Linked DNA regions of Homo sapiens: region 1 is linked to region 2. The links come from fine-mapping of genetic effects on gene expression. A gene starts in region 2. The other region holds a variant in brackets. All regions are shown on one strand. Distances are from middle to middle.

Region 1 (5,377 bases), 29 kb after region 2:
GATGAGAGCTCATGTTGCACTCCCTTCCACGCTGGGTACTGCCTTTGTCACGTCAGTAGTTCTCACGTGTGCAGGGTGTTGCATTGCCCTGTGGGAGATATCAACCATTTTTTCATCTGTTTACTAGCCACGCGGCTATCCTCTTCTGCATAGTACCTGTCCAAGTCATTTGCCCATTTCTTTGAATTGTCTGGATTTATTGGATTTTTCTTGTTGATTTGCCCAAGTCCTTTGCCAAATGCGTGTCTTATGAATGTCTTTTCTGTGGTCTGAATTTCCCTCTCAGTGGTGTCTTTTGATGAATAATACTTCTTATGTTCATGTGGCTCAATGTACCTTTTTTTTTCCTTTTGTGGTTTTAGTGCTTTTTTTTCTTTTCCCATATTTTCTTAAAGTTTTATTATTTCACCTTTCATGGTGAGACTTACAATCTATATGGAATTAAATTTGTAAATGTGAGGTCAGAATGGGGGATATGTGTCTATTGCCCCTGATATTTAGATACACATCTAAATATCTGCTGCCTTTTCTCTGTCTCTTGTTGTCTTCGTTTTGAGGACTCTCCTTTTCCTGAGTGTCCCATGGCTGATTTTGTGTGGGTGGCAGTGGGAGGGCAGGAGGAGGAAGAGGGACTGCTGGGTCCTGTGTCTTTATTCCCAGCTCCCTCCCGCCCAGTGAACTCTGGTCTGGTGGGCAGCAGACTGGCTCCCTCACTTCCCTTACTTCTCTTCCAGGAAGCCCATCCTGGTCTCCATTCCCCAAAGCTGCTCTCCTGCTTGACTTCAGCCACACCCTCCTGCCACCCTCTTCCTCTGCCTGCTAGCCCTTTGGCTCTCCAGGGAGTGCGGCTCATGGCTTGTCTCCCCATTGATCCTCCTTCACCTCCTGCTTGTGTCTCCTGTGCCTGACAACGAGCTCACCTTCCTGCCTCACTGTGAGTGCCTGCCCTGCCAGCCCTGCTGATGCCGTGAGTTTCTTCTGCCCTCCACTGTGCCGCACGGCACAGCCCATCATAGCACTTTGCTTGCCTGGAGGTCTGCGAGCCTTCTCAGGGGAAGGAGGGGGCTTTTCCCCCTTGGCCTCACTGTATTCATTGAATTGCATGAAATTGGATTACTCTCCAGCATTGCCTGAGTCCAGTGTTGAGAGAAAGGTAGGTGAACTCCATCCATGAGTACAAGGGAAATTCTTTGGAAATGTGTTTGTAAGCTACTCTGTCTGGTATTTTCATTGGTATTTGGTCCAACGCTTGCCATAAGCTTCTGTGTTCCCTGCCACTTTACTGAGAGGAATGCAATCCCTCCCAAAGTCCCTGACACTGGGCACCCCAGAAGTGTCATTCCCAATGTGAGTAATGAGCACTTCCAACCCACCAGAGAAATATTGCCCTCAAGATGAAGGGGGAGCCAGGTGTCTGTGGCTAAAGAGACCTCTCCCTGCCCACAGTACCATTTCCATGGCTTTGGAGGAAAGCATGGGACCATGGCTTGCTCATAGGCTGGGGAAGGTGCTGGGGGCATGGGTCCTTTTGACCCCTTGGTCTCTGACAATCAGGAGATCTTGACTCCATTCGACACCTGTCCCAGAGGAGGCAGTGCCCTGTCTCCTCTTGTCCCTCTCTAGGTGCTGCTGGTGGGTACGGCAGGCCCCGTGGGTGATGCCATCCTGCTCGCCATAGAAGGAGTGGACAAGAGCTATGCTGCAGCCGTGCTGAGGGTGTGCCGGCTCTGTTGCTGTGGGGTGACCATTCAGGTCCTGCAGAGGAGCGAGGGGCTGTGCCCAGAGACTCCATGATACCCTTTGTCCTCAGGAACTCCCTGGAATGTGATGGCTCAGGCCGGAAATTCTTCCCCCAAAGAAGCCGAAGTGATCACCGGCCGGTATATGAGCACGGTGCATCAGTGTGTTCGCTGGGCCTGGGTGTCCCTGCTGAGAGACCTCCCTGCCGTTGACCCGGTGACACCCCAACATTGATCCTGTAAAACGAAGCCCAGGCAGAACAGCAGCAAGGACAGCAGCAGCAGCAAGGAGCTTCCTTTGCCTCTTTGTCAGACGTGTCCTCCGAGTCTGACTCCTCCCCTTCCCTCCCTCCCTCCCAGCAGTTGCTGATATTATTTTAGGGTTCTAGCCAGGAAAGGAGAATAATTGGTAAACAAGCAAATCCCATGCCTGAAGAATCATGTTTTCACAGTACAATCAATGCTTTTTGGAGTGAGGGGTTATATATTAAATGGTCAGGATTATTTTGAGACAAAAATGAAGGTTAATGGAATGAAGCTTAGTATTAAATAGCTTGCAGATGTCTTTTTAACCTATGAAGTGGTCGTCTGCTTTTACTAGTGGGACAGCTTGACCAGTGTAATGATTTTCAAGCTACAGAGACAGGTAATATGCCATACATAATTGCATAATATGTAAGAAAAATATCCATTTTCCTCGCACTTTATAAGACAAGTGTGTGCAGGTACCAGATTAATGATGTCAGTCTGGCTAGTTCTACTTGACATTTTTTTCTTAAAATTTTAACATATAGATTTTATACTTCTCGACTCTTATAACCTTGTATGCAGTAATGACTAATCAATTAAATGATACCCCCAAATATTAATATAAATGCTAGGCAAGATACAAGAATTCCCCAGCGGGTCCATTTTGCTGCCTCTGGTTTAGAAAATCAACTTTGCAGCCGGCACGTTGGTGGTGCCACTGTGATATACTCAGGTTTGTGTGGATGCTTCCTGCCTCGCCTTCCTGCCGCAGGGGTGGGAAGTGTGTGGTGTTGAGGTCAAAGGACCGGGCAGG[T/G]CCATGTGACTGCTCAGGTGAGGCTGGACCGTCTAACATAGGGGCTTTGGGATCACGTCCACGCCTCCCTTCATGGGTGAGGGACAATACTGTGGTTTCTCACAAGGACGCGCCCATCTGGAGATAAAAGTGAGGCACTGAAGGTGGAATTTGCTCCTGGATGAGGGCCCGGTTTGCTGGCCCCTCCCGGCGGCTGCCCCCACCCACTTGTTTTCCAGCTTGGCAGTGCTGAGCAGGGTGTCTCTGGGCAAACCCCGTCCGTGCCTGCGGAAGCCAGAGGGAGCCGCCTGTGCTCGGCGCCAACCATGGAAGCGGCTTTCAGAGTCCTCGGAGGACCCTCTCCGGGGACCACAGGGCGACGGCCGCTCCTAGCGCAAGGGCGTTTATGAACTGCTTGATAAAAAGGTCAGAGCGATTTAAGCAAAAACGGAAGGCCCTGCTGCGGCTGAAGACCCTTCTGAGGGGGAGATAAGCCCGCTGTGAAATTAGAATGTCAGTCAGCGGGAAAATGGGATTCAGAACGCTTTAAAGCTGAAAAGCTCCTTAGAGACTTTGCATCAGAAGCCCTCATTTTCTAGGTGAGAAGACTGGAGCCCGGTGAGATGGAACAGGCCCTGCAGGGCAGGACTGGGGCTGGACTCTCACACGCCTGGGTCCTGACTCTCGGGTCTTCCCACAACATCGGTCTGCATCAGGAGGCAGAGACTGGTTAGATGTTCAGCTTTCTGCTCTGGGTACGCCTTTTGGGAACCTGTCCCCTGGGAAAGAAGCAAACAGATTACCCCAGTTAGGAGTAGATCCAGCCTCCTGAAGCTGAGGACCGGGAACCCCTGCCCCCATAGCATGCTTCTGAGGTTCAGATGGGGGCAGCGGGAGATTTGGAGGAACATAAGGGAGAAGCGGCAGCAACTAAAACCTTGGCAGGCAGCGGAGGCCTCTCTGCCCGGAGCCCGTTGCAGCAGGAAGCCCCAAAGCCACACGGAACAGTACCTCCTGCCCTCGGCCCCTTCCAGGGAATCGAACCAGCTTCCGGGCCAACCTGGCCCTTGGCTGAAGCCCTGCTCTGCCCTGCCTCCTGCAGCCCCCGCCAAGCACCAGGCCTCTTACGGGTGGTATTGGGTCCCCAACAAAGACATGTCGAAGCCCTAACCCGTGATACCTGTGAATGTGGCCTTATTTGGAAATGGGATCTTTGCAGATGTCATCAAGTTAAGATGAGGTTATACTGGTTTAAGGTGGGCCCTAAGCCCCTGAATGCTACCCTTACAAGAGGAGAAGAGACCCAGAGACAGCACAGGCGGAGGGAGACGATGTGAACACACACAGCGAGAAGGCCACGGACGGCAGAGGCAGAGATCCGAGGGATGAGTCCACAGCCAAAGGGCTCCAGGGCTCCCAGCACCCCTGGGAGCTGGGAGAGAGACCTGGAGCAGATTCTGGATTCTCCCCCAGAGCCTCCAGCCCTAGCACGGCCCTGTCGACGCCTGGATTTTGGACCCGAGCGGTCCAGAATTGCGGGAGAATACATTTCTGTTGTTTTAAGCTGCCTGGCTTGGGGTAGTCTGTACCGCAGCTGAGGAGATGTACACGATGGCCTTTAGAGTCCGCTCTGAGGCACCCCTGGAGACTGCTCCTGCTGTCCAGGACTTGACCGCAGCAACCACCTGACCCGCCCTCATCCCTCCCTCACCTCATTCCCACTCGCGTCCAAATCTACCCTCCTCACCCTGCTGCAATGGCCTTGCGCAAACACACCTCTGATCATGGCCCCTGTGCTCAGCGATGCTTGGAGGCCAGCGTGGCAGCCCAATCACAATTGCCCAGCGTGGCTACGTGCCCTCCAGGGTCCCACCGCATTCCCTGGGCCCCCCAGGCCCTCACGTCGCCGTGCCCACCCTTCGTTCTTCAGGGACCACTGTGGGGTCAGGTCTCAGCATCGCCCCCGCCTCTGTTTCTATTATCAGGAAGCCGCTTGTTCCCTGTCTTGCTAGCAAATACCTGCCCATGTTTTCACATTCGAGCCGGTCCTCTGCGCTCCAGGTTCAAGCAATTCTCCTGCCTCAGCCTCCCAAGTAGCTGGGACTACAGGTCGGGCCTGGTTAGTACTCGGATGGGAGACCGTTTATTCATTTTATAAGCAATCGTAATAAAGACACACGGGGATGTGCAGTGACCTGGTTCTGCCCTGCAGAACTGCTCAGCATGTTTGGGAGGAAAGATGCATTCAGAAACCTCCCTTCAACTTCTCCTTGGCCACTGTGTGAGTGTCTTGATGTCACTCCAAATCAGCATGGGAAGGCCAGCAATGGGGTCCAGGTGGGGAAACTGTGCTTGTGCTGGACACTGGAGGATGCGGAGGCTGGAGCTGCCGCAGCAGAGAGGGCTGGCACTGAGCAAGCCTCGGCAGGTGGGCAGATGGGGGCAGGCGGGTTGGTGGGTCTCCTTGAGATGCCACATTTGCAAGCTTGAGAAGCTGAACTTGAAATCCATCCTTGGAAAATCATTTTGCAAGCAGGTACTAAAGCAATAATTGCCCTTCCCTTGGGGGGCCCTGAGGAATGAGGAGAGGGAACCT
Region 2 (5,373 bases):
TTCTAAGTCACAAGATGAGATAGGAGGTCGGCACCAAATACAGGTCATAAACACCTCACTGATAAAACAGTTTGCTGTAAAGAAGCCAGCTAAACCCCACCAAAACCAAGATGGCAACGAGAGTTCTCACTGCTATACTCCCACCACTGCCCTGACAGTTTCCAAATGCCATGACCTGTTAGGAAGTTACCCTAAATGGTCTAAAACGGGGAGGCATAAATAAGCCACCACTTGCTTAGCATACAATCAAGAAATAACCATAACAGCAAGTAACCAGTAGCCCTCGGGCCGCTCTGCCTATGGAGTAGCCATTCTTTATTCCTTTATTTTACTAATACACTTGCTTTTACTTTACTATATGGACTCACCCTGAATTCCTTCTTTCACAAGATCCAAGAACTCTCTCGGGGTCTGGACTGGGACCTCTTTCTGGAAACACAGATATCTCTTTGACATAGTGATTTCAATTCCTTTGAGTATTGTGAAAGGAAAATAAATTTTGGGGCCCCCAAATCACTAAGCTAAAGGGAAAAGTCATGCTGGAAAATGCTCAGGGACAACCTGCCTCCCATTCTATTCAAAGTGATCCCTTTGCTCACTGAGATAGGTGCATATCTGATTGCCTCCTTTGGAAAGGCAAATCAGAAACTCAAAATAATGTAACTATTTGTCTTTCACCTACCAGTGACCTGGAAGCCCCCTCCCTGCTTTGAGTTTTCCCGCCTTTCTGGACAGAACCAGTGTATACCTTACACTTACATATTGATTTATGTCTCATGTTTCCCTAAAATGTATAAAACCAAGCTGTGCCCTGACCACCTTGGGCTCATGTCATCAGGACCTCCTGAGGCCGTGTCATGAGTGTGTGTCTTCAACCTTGGCAAAATAAACTTTCTAAATTAACTGAGAACTGTCTCAGATATTCAGGGTTCACAGTATATACTCAGAAGTAGGACTGCTGGATCATATGGTAATTCTGTTTTTAGAGTTTTGGGAAACTTCCATTCTATTTTCCATAAAGGCTGCACTAATTTACATTCCCATCAACAGTGTACAAGGGTTCCCTTTCCTCCACATTTTCACCCACACCCATTGTCTTTGGTCTTTTTGATTATAGCCCTTCTAACAGTGTAAGGTGACATCTCATTATGCTTTTAATTTGTATTTCCCTGATGATATGTGATGCTGAGCATTTTTGCTGGTCATTTTTATGTCTTCTTTTGAGAAGTATCTGTTCAGGTCCTTTGCCCATTTATAAATTTCTTCTTTTGCTTTTTTGCTGTTGAGTCGTGTGCCTTTAATTTTTGCACTTTACGTTGTGAGTTTTATTTTCCATGCTTGTTCTTTGCTTCTTTATTCTCTTCTTTTCTTGCCTTCTATTGAGTTGATTGTGTTTTCTTTATTCCCTTCCCCCTGTCTACTAGTTTGGGAATTATATATACTAGCAAAGAGATACCCTTAAATTTTTAAAATAAATACTTACCAAAGCCTAAGTTCCATCAATTATCTATCTTTCTTACTTATGAAATTGAGAAAGGCCGTTCACTCCATGTCGCTACCTCTACCTAATAACTTAAAATTTTTTATTTGTCTAATATTTTATTTCCACCTTTTTTTTTTTTTTTTGAGTCTTGCTCTGTTGCCCAGGCTGGAGTGCAGTGGCATGATCTCGGCTTACTGCAACCTCTGCCTCCTGGGTTCAAGCAATTCTCCTGTCTCAGCCTCCCAAGTAGCTGGGACTACAGGCGCACACCACCATGTCTGACTAATTTTTGTATTTTTAGTAGAGACAGGGTTTCTCCATATTGGTCAGGTCGGTCTCGAACTCCTCACCTCAGGTAATCCACCTGCCTTGGCCTTCCAAAGTTCTGGGATTACAGGCCTGAGCCACCACGCCCAGCCTCCATCTTGTTTTATAATTCCCTAAAGTTAATTGTTGTTAAATCAGGAGAGAAGTATTTTATGTAACATTTCTGTTTATCAGCCCAGCCCACCAACTGGAGTGCCCTGATTCCATAAGTTTGGCAAGTCACTTACCTTCTCTGGCTTTCCATTTCTGGTCACAGCTGGGAGAGGCTCTGAAGATCATCTAGCAAAGGAGCTCCCTCACTTTGCCTGTTTCTAGGCACTGAAAAGTACAGGCCACAAATATATTCAGTAAAATAAATCACTTGAGAAATTCAAACAGGCTAGAGGAGATATCCGCTATCATAGGAGATCGGGCAGAAAAGTTTCTTAAACATAAGAGTGAAATGACCTAAACTGAATTTCAATGAGATAAACAGCAGTTTACTAAGACAGGGCAACCCCACAGGGTGCTGTTTGGTCAGAATTGGCCCGAGGAGGTGAGACCCTGACCTACGAAGGCAGCAGGTGTCCGGGAAGCATGGTTAGCAGCAAGAGCTAGGGGAGGTGGCCGCCGATTACATAGAAGAAAGGAGGCAGGCAGGCGCTGATCCCAGGGGTTCTGGTAGAGGGGCAGGGAAACTACCGTTATTGGTCCTTCATGCAAACTTTAGGATTTTCATCCATGTGTGTATTGCTTGAAGATGCTGCATTGCAGAAAGTCTTCAACTTCTCCCATGACCGAGGCAGGTCTGATGAGAGTGCAAACAGTTAGTACTCGCCCAGCTGCGCGCCGAGGCCTCCTCCAGAATCCAGACCGCATCCCCGAAAGCCCGCCCTGCCCCGCACTTAGGCCCCGCCCCAACACGCCCGTCCCGATAACGAGGCTCCGCCCCCAAGAGCTCGCCCGCGCTCCCCCAGAGGAAACGGAAGTCGTATCTGTCCGGACGGAAGCAGGAAGCGGGAGCGTAGGGCCACGCCTGCGGCGCTGCTGGTTGAGGCTGTGTGGGTCGGGGACGGGCCGAGGCGATGGCGGAGAAGTTTGACCACCTAGAGGAGCACCTGGAGAAGTTCGTGGAGAACATTCGGCAGCTCGGCATCATCGTCAGTGACTTCCAGCCCAGCAGCCAGGCCGGGCTCAACCAAAAGCTGTGAGTGGCGGCCCGAGGCTGCCGGGGTCTCCCCAGGGCCTGGCCGGGAAGCGTGTGCTAGGGGAGCGGGGATCTAGGGAGCCCGAGCCGAGCCTGACCGCTACTCGTGCCCCGCCAGCCCTCTGGTCTGGTCCCGGAGCCCGGGGCGCCTTTCCTGGCTGTGTTCAGAGGGCGGGGCCCGCGCTCCAGCCTGTTGCCAAGAGCCAACCTCTTTGAGGCCCCTTTGGAGACGTCGTCATGGCCAGATGATATACTTTACGTTTCCCTATCAAGGGAATCATGCTTTCTCTTCTAGCGTCTCCCCTCTCATGTGTAACCCCCTCCCAGCCTTTTCCTCCTGGAGCCCTTCTGGGAATTCAGTCCCTGTCTCCAGAGGGGAGGCAGGCTCCACAGTGAGTGCACGCCCTAAACTAGGCCTCAGAAGGTGAGGCTCCGAAGCCACCTGCCGCATAGGCCTGACAGTGGAGGAAATAGCGGGGAGGTGGTGCTGAGAAAGGTTGCAGAACGTTTATTATTATTATTTCTTGGCAACAGCCTTGTGCTGCCCATGTTGCTAGGCCCTGGGTTGGAGAAAAGGCAAATGCAAGTACAGCACTTTCGAGAAGGGCTTTATATGTGGCACGGACATAGAAAATGTTGCACTCGAGGTTCCATACCTAGTGCTGTGGGAATAGCCAGACCAGCCTGATGCTGTAGGAAGGCTCCAGAGAGGAGAGGAAGCTAAACCAGACAGTATGGCTTTCTTTCCCTCAGACTTTGAGTATAGTCCGCTGCCTCATGTGTTCGCTGAAACCGCACACACAGTCATATGCACAGTCAGGTAATTGTTTTTGAGAGAAGGTTCATATTTTTCATCAGGTTCCCTCTCCATCCCCCTTACTGGCAATTTCTAGTTGAGAAGGAAAGTAACAAATATTTAAGGGTATTTTGTAACTCTAACGGTGTCCTAGGAATCCTGTAGCTAACCAAAGAGGTCAGAACCGTGTGTAACCCGCATAGCTGTGAGGAGAACGAACTTGCGTGGAGCCCCGGTTGGCTGGGTAGCTCTGTGGGTGGTGCTTATGCTGTCAAGCGAAATTAACCAGATGCCTGTGTGTTTGCCTTTCCCCCAGGAATTTTATTGTTACTGGCTTACAGGATATTGACAAGTGCAGACAGCAGCTTCATGATATTACTGTACCGTTAGAAGTTTTTGAGTAAGTAACATTCTTGATATTAGTCTTGGGTATAAATCTTGTTCAGTTATGGTGTGGTATCGTGACTTCTTCATCACTGGCATTCGAGTGCCTGCTGTGTGGTAGGCACAGCCTGGGTGCTGGGGATGTGCCAGTGGAAAAAAAAATAGACAAAAATACAAAAATACCTGCCCTTATGGAACTTCCGTTCTAATGGCATTACAAAACGAAAAAAAAGAATATCCTTAATATTCTATTGTGGAAAAAAAGTTACATGTAAATAAAAGCTTATTAAATATATGAAATACATCATAGGTCCTCAAAGCCCTGCTTAGGCTAAAGAACAGCCACAAAACTTTCTTTTTTCCTTAAGAGGTGAAAAGTCCTATGAGGGCTATATTGTAAATTTTTAAAAAATGGCAGCCAGAAGCACCTGAAAAGCAAGCTGGTCTGATGTTCCCAAACTGCCCGTGGAGTGCTAGTTCTGAGAGGTGAAAATATCTGCTCTGTCGAAGGAGGAAAGAAAGGGTTCTTATTCCAAGTATGTTTGGGGAGGCTGCTCACTGTTTTCTGTGCGAGAGTTGTGTGCACCTATGTTAGTAATAGTCCTGAGAACACATACAGGAATGAGCTTTTAGATTTTTAAAATCCAGGTTTTCTTGCATTGATTTGGTCACATCTCTGATTTCACACATGAAGGACCTGATAAGTAACTGCAATAGGTTGTTTACCTAGTAAGTGTCAGAGTTAAGACGAAACCCCCGGACTCATACTTTCTTGACCAGTGCAAAGCAGCCTCTCCCTGATGGTGCTGGCTTGGAACAGCAAGAACATTCTAGTATTTCTTGCAGCAAAACTGCAAATGTAAATCACTAGATTTCGTTAAGCAGTAAAGGGAAAGAGTTATGGCTGTTTTCCATCCCAAAAGGTCAGAGATACAAGTTCTAGCTATAGTGCAGCAGCTGCCTACAAAGACAGGACACAGAGGTGGTTTTCTTGGTCTCTGATCTTCTGTTCACCTGCTGATGACTTTGCCCCATGTTCCTTACCTGTGCTCAGTGGGCACCACTGAGGTCTCTGACTTCAGGTGGGACGAAGGTCTTGCACCTCAGGTAGCTCCAGACTCAGCTTTGGCTTTCTCAGTCCAGGAATACAGAGCATCCTCCTTTGTGCTCTTCTGATTATGAATGCAGGGGATGCAT

Evidence for each region. PIP is the estimated chance that this variant, and not a neighbour inherited with it, causes the effect.
Region 1: its variant is the best candidate, but not a certain one, in a credible set for the expression of MED10 in whole blood (TOPMed, PIP 0.75).

The regions. Positions count from the first base shown.
Region 1 is chr5:6,347,156-6,352,532 of GRCh38, reverse strand. No RefSeq gene overlaps it. Among named protein-coding and RNA genes, the nearest start is that of LINC02145, 13 kb to the right of the region's middle. RefSeq lists an enhancer at 1,843-2,137. The variant T/G (reference allele first, on the strand shown) is at 2,803.
Region 2 is chr5:6,375,985-6,381,357 of GRCh38, reverse strand. MED10 (mediator complex subunit 10) reads left to right here and starts at 2,811. Exons shown (of 4, transcript NM_032286.3): 1 at 2,811-2,996; 2 at 4,109-4,192. The coding sequence starts at 2,875. RefSeq lists enhancers at 2,357-2,576, 2,867-3,076.